2 separate regions of the Homo sapiens genome follow, and region 2 is linked to region 1. The links come from fine-mapping of genetic effects on gene expression. A gene starts in region 1. The other region holds a variant in brackets. All regions are shown on one strand. Distances are from middle to middle. Region 1 holds the start of PLEKHJ1 (pleckstrin homology domain containing J1). Region 2 overlaps DOT1L (DOT1 like histone lysine methyltransferase).

What was found. PIP is the estimated chance that this variant, and not a neighbour inherited with it, causes the effect.
Region 2: its variant is the best candidate, but not a certain one, in a credible set for the expression of PLEKHJ1 in blood mononuclear cells (TOPMed, PIP 0.70).

Annotation. Positions count from the first base shown.
Region 1 is chr19:2,233,984-2,238,983 of GRCh38, reverse strand. It overlaps PLEKHJ1 (pleckstrin homology domain containing J1), which reads left to right and starts at 2,655. Exons shown (of 6, transcript NM_018049.3): 1 at 2,655-2,829; 2 at 2,994-3,061; 3 at 3,156-3,222; 4 at 4,744-4,834; 5 at 4,923-4,986. The coding sequence starts at 2,736. SF3A2 (splicing factor 3a subunit 2) reads right to left here and starts at 2,160. Exons shown (of 9, transcript NM_007165.5): 1 at 2,083-2,160. It overlaps MIR1227 (microRNA 1227), which reads left to right and starts at 4,835; the gene lies at 4,835-4,922. MIR6789 (microRNA 6789) reads left to right here and starts at 3,058; the gene lies at 3,058-3,155. RefSeq lists silencers at 1,875-1,974, 2,585-3,214 and enhancers at 2,395-2,444, 2,023-2,631, 3,240-3,848, 3,851-4,430.
Region 2 is chr19:2,205,084-2,210,595 of GRCh38, reverse strand. DOT1L (DOT1 like histone lysine methyltransferase) reads right to left here. Exons shown (of 28, transcript NM_032482.3): 10 at 3,799-3,867; 11 at 2,916-3,022; 12 at 1,620-1,661; 13 at 86-196. Among named protein-coding and RNA genes, the nearest start is that of DOT1L-AS1, 7.7 kb to the left of the region's middle. The variant G/A (reference allele first, on the strand shown) is at 3,046.

The sequences.
Region 1 (5,000 bases):
CCCCCGAAAAAAATCATCTGTTTCTTCAAAAGCTCCCAGAAGTTTTGCTCGGACAGCATGAAGGGAAAGAGATGACCACACTGGAAACAGAGGTCAGCACAGGGGAGCAAGGACAGGAAGGTTTGGGACAACAGCTCCACTTCCAGGTCAGAGCACAACCAGTCCCATTTGGAGGAGGAGGATAAGGGGGTCTTGGAGGGAAGTGGTGAGGGGAGATCAATTTATTTAAACCTATGCAAAATACAACTGATAGGTGTGTGAGAGGTGGGAGCTTTGTGGGGAAAAAACAAACAGCAGGTAAAAGAAAATCAGGCTCATGGTAAAAACAAAGTTAATTAGCTTTAAGGGAAGATAGAATGGTACAAGAAAAGCCTAGCTGAACATATTACTTGTTTTAGCAGCCAACAATATTTTGCATCTTATTTAGAAAACACAACCAATGACCAACTATGCTCATGACATAAACTCATTCAGGATATGGAAGGTGAAGGTGCAGTGGGTGGATGGGAGGGAGAAGATCTCAACAGCCGTGACAAGAAATCAGCAGATGATGTCTACAAATTGATAAATCCATGAAGAAATCTGTTACTTACTAAGGTAAAGATCAGGGGACAGCCTGGCCAACCTGGTAAAACCCCATCTCTACAAAAAATACAAAAATTAGCCGGGTGCAGTGGCTCATGCCTGTAATCCTACCACTTTGGGAGGCCGTGGCAGGTGGATCACCTGGTCAGGAGTTCGAGACCAGCCTGGGCAACATGGCGAAACCTCGTCTCTACAAAAAATACAAAAATTCGCCGGACATGGTGGTGAGCACCTGTGATCCCAGCTACTCGAGAGGTTGAGGCAGGAGGATGGCTTGAGCATGGGAGTTTGAGGCTGGAGTAAGCTGTGATTGCACCACTGCACTCACTCCAGCCTGGGTGACAGAGCAAGACCCTGTCTCAAAACAAACAAAAAACCGATGACGACCAGGGGAAATGAGCTTAAGAATTGAGGAAAAGTGGCCTCTGGGACCTGGGACTAGACCATTGAGAAGGAATTAGTTTTTCGTGGCAACACCGTTCTCTCCTTAACCTAGCCAACAACCTATTTTCCAGAGCTCCGCCTGGCTGTTTGGTGTCGTCCAAGGATACACAAGAACAACGGTCACAGCGGGGTGCACCTGCAAAATGGGGCCAGCTAACGTGTTCTGGTCGCCTTTGGCATGATGTTGAAGCCGTCACTCCCATTTTAAGGGAACTGAGGCTCACAGGAATTACATCACAGAGCCCCAGTCAACTAACAGGTATAGATGAGCATACAGAAGCGTTCTCGGCTACAAGGAAGGCGGCCGAAACCATTTCAGCCGCGATCCCGATTCGACCCCAACGAATCTTGGTTGTTTCTTTTTTATTTTGTCAAACAGGGTCTTGCTCTGTTGTCCAGGCTGGAGTGCAACGGCACAATCACAACTCACTGCAGCCTCGACCTCCTGGACTCAAGCGATCTTCCCGCTTCAGCCTCCAGAGTAGCTGGGACTACAGGCGCGCGTCACCAACCACGCCCGGCTAATTTTTTTTTTTTTTTTTTTTGCAGTGATGGGGTCTCGCTATGTTGCCCAGGCTGGAGTGCAGTGGTGGGATCATGGCTCACTGCAGCCTCGACATTCCGAGCTCAAGCGATCCTCTCGAGTAGCTGGGCCTACAGGTACAACCACCACTCCTGGCTAATTTTTTAAAATTTTTTGTAGAGATGGGGGTCTCGGTGTGTTGTCCAGGCTGGTCTCGAACTCCTGGCCTCAAGCGATCCTCCCGCCAAGGCCTCCCTGAGCAGTGAGATTACAGGCGTGAGGCCCCGCGCGCGGCCTCCCAACAGGAGTTTGGAAATAGAGTTCCTGGCGGGCCCGACCCTCCAGGCCCGCCCAGCGCGGGGCCTCAGGATGCACAAGGCCGGACGCTCACGGGAGGAGGGAGGGGAGCGACGCCGCCGCCCCACCCTCGGCCCGCGGCCTGTCGCAAGCGCCTCTCTCCTACGTCCGCTGTCCCCCAGGGAACCCCCGGTCCGCGTCGGCCGCCGCCCTCAACCGCCTCTACTCCTCACCAGAGCCCAAGGCCGCGTTATCTCCTCCTCGTTTCGCCACCTCCACGACTTCGTTTGGCGAACGGCGGGCAAAGAAAGCACTTCCGGGGCAAATGAGACGGGCCCTCTGGTGTGCGCATGCCTGGCCCGCCCAGCGGCGTGAGTCAGAGGGTCCCGAGGCGCGAAGGAAAAGGCTGGAGGGGGAGAGGCTGAAAGCGCGGCCTGGAAGGCAAACTGCGCGTGCGCACAACGCTCTCAACGAACCCTCGGTCCGCTGCGGCCGCACGGGGCCAACTTTCGCGAGGGAGCGGCTGACACTCTCCGGGCGACGTTATCGCTCCCTCCGCCTGCGCCTGGCCGCTCTAGAAAGGGGTGCCAGCCATCGCTGGGGTGCCTTGATTCTGTTCCACCTTGGTCCGGTTTATTTCAGTTTAATGGTTATGTAACAACGGTCCGTCTCTCCTACCAACCGGTACCCCGCCCACGCCAGCAGCCACGGGTCGCCAGCGCCACGCAGCGGAGGCGGGCGGCATGGCTGGCCCAAGGTGCGCAGGCGCACTAGCCCTGGGGGTGCTTCCGTGTCTGCGCCCTGAGACATTTTTGGCGCCGGCCCCAGCCTGAGCGGGGACGGCGGCCGGGAGGGCGCGGCCCGGGTTCCCGTTCCCCGCGGAGCCATGCGGTACAACGAGAAGGAGCTGCAGGCTCTGTCCCGGCAGCCGGCCGAGATGGCGGCCGAGCTGGGCATGAGGGGCCCCAAGAAGGGCAGCGGTGAGCGGGACCCGGGAGACCGAGACAGTGCCAGGGGCGGGAGGCCGGGGCCGGGGTCTGGGCGGGGGTGCCGGAGGCCGGAGTCCGGGTCGGGGCGCCGGGGACGGGAGGCCGGGGTCCGGGCGGGGGCTGCCTGCGCCCCTGAGTGCGCGCTGTGCCCGCAGTGCTGAAGCGGCGGCTGGTGAAGCTGGTGGTGAATTTCCTCTTCTACTTTCGGACAGACGAGGCCGAGGTAGGGGCGTCCCGGGCGCGCGGGCGGGTCCCAGGCTGGGCCCCTCGGAGGCCGGGTGCTCACTGCCCCGTCCCGGCGCCCGTGTCTCCTCCAGCCCGTCGGAGCCCTGCTGCTGGAGCGCTGCAGAGTCGTCCGGGAAGAGCCCGGCACCTTCTCCATCAGTGAGTGGGGCTAGGGAAGCCAGCGGCGCTTCCCGCAGCCCGGGGCACCCGCAGCGCCGCACTTTCCCCTCCCCGGGCGCCCAAGGTCTCCTCTGTGTCCCCAGCCTGGCGCCACCCTCCTCAAACACAAGAGTGCATTGTCCACGGGCAGCTCAAGGTCAAGTTCTCCTGGCGGGCACCACCCTTCCCACCTGCCGAGTCCACTTAAGCTTGGGTCCCTCCCAGACTCTGCTCTTTGTTCCCTGTGGGCCCAGGCTGTACTTACAGGGCAGGTGGGCCAGCCCCACCCAAAGCGTTTCCCCAGCTGCCAAGAGTAGCATGGGTCTAGCATTGTTATATGGCCCCGGGCTGGAAATCCCAGGTGGGGGTAGGAGGAGTGAGAGGGGGGTGTTCTCCTGGGTCTTAAGAGATTCCCTTCTGCGGGGAAAGATGGAGTCCCTGCTAGTTTGCCCAGAGTGGCTGTCAAAATTCCACAGGCCAGGTGGCTTAAATATCAGAAACATTCTCTACAGTTCTGGAGGCCAGAAATCCTAGATGAAGGTGTGGGTGGGGCCGAATCCTTCTGAGGCCGAGGGGAATCTCCCAGTTCCTAGTGGTGGCCAGTATCCTCCAGGTTCCTTGGCTTGTGGAAGCGTCACCTTGTCCTCCTTGCATCACGTCTGTGCCCACATTTCCCCTTCTACACAGACGCCAAGCAGAATTTAGGGCCCACCCTGACAACCCCTTTTTACTTCACTTTATTATTTTATTTGCTTATTTTTTGAGACAGGGTCTTGGTATGTCGCCCAGGCTGGAGTGCAGTGGTGCAATCTCGGCTCCCTGTAACTTCCCCCTCTCGGGTTCAAGTGATTCTCCTGCCTCAGCCTCCCGAGTAGCTGGTACTACAGGCACGCGCCACCATGCCCAGCTAATTTTTGTATTTTTAGTAGAGACGGGGTTTCGCCATATTGGCCAGGCTGCTCTCGAACTCCTGACCTCAGGTGATCCTCCCACCTCGGCCTCCCAAAGTGCTGGGATTACGGTCTTGAGCCACCGTACCCGGCCCTCTTTATTTTTGAGACAGGATCTTTTGTTTCCGAGGCTGGAGTGCAGTGGCGTGATCACAGCTCACTGCAGCCTCAACCCCCTTGGCTCAAGCAGTCCTCCCACTTCTGACTCCGGAGTGGCTGGGCCTACAAGGCCCCACCACCACACCTGGCTAATTTTTGTTTTTGTAGAGATGGGGATTTTGCCATGTCACCCAGGCTGGTCTCGAACTCCTGAGCTCAAGCAATCCTCCCACCTTGGCCTCTCAAAGCGCTGGGATTATAGGCATGAGCCACCGCACCTGGCGACAACCTCATTTTGACTAGTTTATATGCAAAGACCCTGTTTATATACAGGGCCATACTCATGGGTTCTGGGGGGTCAGGACATGAACACATCTTTGTGGGGGCCAGAGAAGGGACAGTTTATGGGCAATGGCAAGAGGAAGCTGCTTGTGGCTGTGGGTAGGACCGACCACAGGTGTTCCATCCCCAGGCTTCATTGAGGACCCTGAGAGGAAGTATCACTTTGAGTGCAGCAGCGAGGAGCAGTGTCAGGAGTGGATGGAGGCTCTGCGTCGGGCCAGGTGGGGCCAGGCGGTGGTGGGCACTGCTGGGGTGGGCACAGCAGCCATGCAGAGCGGGCATTTGACCCCGTGCCACCCTTTTCCCCAGCTACGAGTTCATGCGGAGAAGCCTCATCTTCTACAGGAACGAAATCCGGAAGGTGACGGGCAAGGTGTGTGCAGGGCT
Region 2 (5,512 bases), 29 kb after region 1:
GATGGGCACAGAGCCTCCCACCCATGGGGTCTCCCGGGCAGGGGGCGGGTGCCCTCCAGCAGCAGGAGCCAGGCTGGGGCCTTACCATGGGGGCGTCGGCGGGGCCGGCCACCTTGCCCTCTGGGCCCTTAGTGGGCGTGGCCGCGTTGCTCTTGCTCTCGCGCTGCTGGCGGCGCCGGGCTGCCTCCTGTTCCTCCTGGAAGGAGAGCAGGTTGAGCCACAGGAAGCCCCAGCGCTGCCCACGGCCCTCCTGCACCGAGAGGCACGCGGAGCTCAGACTCAAGGGGGCCACGGGCCCAACTCTGTCCACTGCAAGTCCTCTGTGGCACAAATCAGGAAACTGAGGCCCAGAGACAGCAGTGGGCTGCTTGGGGCCCCGCAGGCCAGGACGTGACCCGTGGGCACGGATAACGGCATTCACAGCCACTCCCACAATCACAGATGCCTGTCAGTAAGAAGCCAGACTGTGAGCCACAGAGAAAAAGAACCACATCCAAGACAGGAGACGAGAAGCCCCTCAGGCAGCAGGACCTAGAAGCCACAGCCCACAGCCTCCCCTGCCCTCTCTCCTCTCTTCGAAAGGCACCGAGGCCCACACATGGGACGCCATGCACAAGTTCTCTGATGTGAGTTAGTGGAGGGCGCGACCCACGGGAAGGGGAACACAGGGTGCGCCGGCCACCTCGGGCCGTTCCCTGCTCTCCAGGGAAGACCCACATCCCCCTAAGCATGGTGGGAAGGACAGAGGGCCCCCGAGGGGTACCAGGCTCTGAGGCCGGGTTGGAGCCCAGCCCTGGCTACAAATCCAGGCAGTGACAGAGCCCTTCCTGTACGGGGTTCTCCGCATGCTGGTCTTGTCTGACCCCCTCCAAAAGGAAAGGACGCCCGGACAAACATCCTCTCAGCTTTGGTGGCAAATAAGCAGGCAGGTCTGAGGCTGCAGAAGCGCCAGCGGGCAGGGCGGCCACTGTGGCTCCCCAAGCCAGGCTTTCCCACCGCTGCTTTAAGGTGGGAGAGGAGGGGACAGCCCTGCCTCCGACGGTGCAGCGCGTGCAGGGCGCGGGGGCCCAGGAGCTGCACTCTGCACCGAGGGTGGGACAAGCGCACATGTGTGGCCCCCCAGGCCTCAAGAGGGGGCAGCCAGCAGTGACGCACAAGCTTTTCACCCACCCAGCCCTTCAGTGCAACTCACCCCACCACCAAAACTAAGCCAAGCCACCTCCCCAAAAATAAGTATTAACAAGGGGAAGGATGTCCCAGGCCAAACCATCAAAGACAAGGCAAAGCATGAAGACAGGCAAAGAGACAGAGAGAGGGTGGGAGAGAGAGAGAAACGGAGAGGGAGGGTGGGGGAGAGAGAGAGAGATTGAATGGTGAGAGAAAAGGGCTGGGAGAGGAGAGGAAGAGGGGGAGGACAGGGAGGAAAGGGTAGGGAGAGGACCAGGAGTGACAGTGGGGAGGAGCAGGAAGGAGGCGGGAAAGGGCACAGGGCCGGGCCCCGAGGGGCGGCAGGGCTGTGCTCCAGTCGTGGCTCCTGAACCCGGCTGCGCACGGCTTTGCATTTCCCCACATCAGTGCATGCGTGTTATTAACCCAAGAGAAAAAACACACAAACTTACCCTGAGTTTTGGGTTTTTCAGACTAGAAAAATAGTTTTCAAGCTAAAAAGAAGAAAGAGAACCCTGATTAGAAGGGAGTCCCAATCTCTGTTCGGATTTGTCTGGACACCCAGGTAACAACAGCAACCTGGACAGTGGCTGGGGAGGCTGTTCTGGTATCTGGGGACAGCAGGCATGCAGCTAGAGCCCCCCAGTGGCAAACGCGGATGTGACTAACCCAGCTGTGGCCAGGCGTCACCCTCAATTCACCAGCACGCGACGGGTGGGCGGGGCTGGTTTAAGCCTTCAGAACAGACACAGGGCCCTGGGATGTGTCTCTGCTTCTGGAAGAGGGAGGGCTTTCTGCACAGAAGAACCGCGCCCGCCTCAGAGGAGAAGGCGAGAGGCTGCGCCGAGGGCGTCAGTGCCAGGGCAGCTGAAGCAGCAGCACTGCGTGGAGGTGGGGGCCGCACGGTAGGCCAAGCCCCCAGAGCCTCAGCCTCAGCTCACCATGCCTCTCGTCCCAGGGCCCTCGGGGGAGCAGTGGGAGGGCGGGGTGCATCTGCCTGGGGCTGTCGGTCCCCAGACGGCACCAGCGCTCCCCAGGCAGGCTCTAGTGGAGGCTCCGAGCACTGGACAGTGAGGGTGCAGACACACCAGCACCACCGTAAGGAAAACCACCGCTACCCCAACAACAGGAACAGAGTGCCCAACCAAAGGACGGGAAAGAGACCAGGGGAAGCCTCCCAGCCCTGGAGGGCTGGCGCTGCCCACATGCCAGGAGGCTCGGGATACTCGTGCCCGGGGGGGAAGCACCGTGGGAGGCAGGCAGGCCGCACACTGGCCCAGGGCTGTGTCAGAGGACCCTGGGGAACACAGGGAGGGAAGAAGCATCCCAGACCCCACCCATGGACCCTGGTGTCTCCCCGCTCAGGACCCTCTCACATGGAGGAAGCTGGGAACAGGGACGTGGGACTCCTATCCACAGGGGCCTCTGGATATGGCGGCCGGGACCCTTATGGTCACACATCACTCTGATGGCCCCGCCCCACCCCAGGAGCTGAGCGTAGACTAGGGGAGACAGCACTCAGCCCTCACCCAGGACACGCCCAGTGCCTGGGAGGACCCTGGTGGGTCCTGCGGTGCAAGCAGTACTGAGGGGCCTTGAGGAGCTGGGCCTGAGCTCAGGGGCCGGGGGGCGTTGAGGGCTCTGAGGGGAGGGTCTCAGAGGCCACATGAGAAAGGAGAGAGCAGTGTGACGTGGGCGGGGTGGAAGACCAGGACGGCCCTGCGGCTGAGGCGCAGCGAGATACTCACTATGGTGCGGTCGATAGTGTGCAGGTAGTAGGAGACTGGCTTCCCCGTCCACGACACCGAGCCCTTCAGGGGCGAGAGCTCCACCACGCGCATGATGGTGCCGATGTCTGCAGGAGCCACAGGTGAGGCC[G/A]GGGCCTGCGCCTGCCCACAGCCCCTCCATGCAGACCTCACCCACCCCAGGGCAGGCGTGGGGACAGAAGCCTGAGCTGCGCGTCTTCCCTCTTCTCCCACACTGCGTCAGGCCACAGTGGCCCACAGAGGCCGGCCCAGGGAGGTGCACCATTCAACACCACCTGGCCTGGGCCCCTCCAACCTCAGAAAAACAGCCACAAACCCAGCTGAGTGGAATGGAAAAGGAGGGGGAGAAGATCTGGAAGCGACTTAGATCACGGCTGCAAGAACGGCCAGCATCCAGCAACACAGGCACCTCCCGGGTGGGCGCTCCTCAGGGAAGCCCCTCAGAGGAGGCCGTGCTGCCCCGCAAGGCTGGGAGCTGACAGAGCACGCAGCACAGTAAGGCAGGCAGGGGGCATGGGAGGGGCCGGCTCCTTCCCACCGTGGGCCTGTCTCTGTCCACAAAAGTCCTGTAAATCCTTCACGCCTCCCCTCGAAGCCGGGGTCTCCCCGAGGAGTGATTCTACCCCCATGGCACACAGTGCTCTATGGGGACGTGTGTGGTTGTCGCGACCAGGGGTGCTCCTGGCATGGAGTGGGTGGACACCAGGGACGCTGCTCAGCACCCTGCACTGCCCAGGACAGCCCCACCCCACAGAAGGATCCAGCCCCAGTGTCCACAGGGTCAAGGAAGAGGGACCTAGGAATACTGCGTGTCAGATGGTTAAAATTACCCGTGTTCATCATTAACAACATGAGAGTTTCTTACCACTCAAGTTTCTACTGTTTATTCTGAAGTTCAGAGGTGCAAAGGGTTTCGAGGACACGATTCTGCCACCTGAAACACAGACACTGCTTACTGCCACACAGGAGAGAGGAAACAGAAGAGCAGACACCACTCAAGGTGACAGAGAAGGAACAATGACACGGAACACACACACACTGGGCTCCGGGTCCTGTCCACCTGCCTACAAGCAACACTAGGAAACACCTTCCAAGTTGAAGCCTATTCTACAAATAACTTTTTTTTTTTTTTTTTTTTTTTGAGACAGAGTCTCCCGGCTCACTGCAACCTCCACCTCCCTGGTTCAAGCGGTTCTCCTGCCTCAGCCTTGCGAGTAGCTGTGATTACAGGCGCACACCACCACACCTGGCTAATTTTTGGATTTTTAGTAGAGAGCGGGTTTCACCCTGCTGGCCAGGCTTGTCTGGAACTCCTGGCCTCAAGTGAGCCACCACGCCCAACCTCCTACAAATAATGCTTCTTTAAAAAACATTCTCGGCGCGGTGCAGTGGCTCATGCCTGTAATCCCAGCACTTTGGGAGGCTGAGGCAGGTGGATCACCCGAGGCCAGCCTGGCTAACAGGGTAAAACCGTGTCTCTACTAAAAAAATACAAAAACTAGCCAGGTGTGGTGGCGCACATCTGTAATCCCAGCTACTCGGGAGGCTGAGGCAGGAGAATCACTTGAACCTGGGAGGTGGAAGCTGCAAGTGAGTCGAGATCGCGCCACTGCACTCCAGCCTGGGCGATAGAGAGAGACTCTGCCTCAAAAGAAAAAAAAAACCCACTACGCTGCCAGGCGCACAGGCTCACGCCTGTAAACCCAGCATTATGGGAGGCCAAGGCGGGCAGACTGCCAGAAGTTCCAGCCCAGCCTGGGACACAGGGAGACCCCATCTCTACAAAAAATTAAAATAAAAAATTAGCTGGGCATGATGGTGCATGCCTGTGATCCCAGCTACTCGGGAGGCTGGGGCAGGAGGATCACTTGAGCCCAGGAGGTCAAGGCTGCAGGGAGCTATGATCACACCAGTGCACTCCAGCCTGGGCCAAGGATGAAGACCCTGTCTCAAAAAAAAACAAAACAAAAAACTAAGGTTTGAGAGGCAGGAAGAGCAAACCCCCAAGCCGTACACAAGCAGGAACAAAATCTAACTGTAGATGCAAACTGGAAACAGTCATGCGAAAAGAATTATTTCAAATACCTCTGAACCCTGGGATTCTAACTGACTGTCAGTGATAAATGCAAAGACAAACAGACCGGATGGACACCTTCAGCCTCAGTCTGACCAACACAGTGAAACCCCGTCTCTACTAAAAATACAAAAAAGTCAGCCAGGCACCTGCAAGGCTGCTGCTAAGCGTCAGTCTCACTATCACCAGCCACTATGGGGCATCTTGTGTGTGCTGCAGGAAGAACTTGGTGTCAGGAGCCGAACTTCGCAGGACCGAGAGAAACAGAGCCTTCTGTTTTTACACATATAAAGAAGGTAATCATAAAAGTCAAAATGTGGGCCAGGTGCGGTGGCTCATGCCTGTAACCCAGCACTTTGGGAGGCCGAGGCAGGGAGATCACGAGGTCAGGAGATCGAGACCATCCTGGCTAACACAGTGAAACCCTGTCTCTACTAAAAATACAAAAAAATTAGCCAGGTGTGGTGGCGGGCGCCTGTAGTCCCAGCTACTCGGGAGGCTGAGG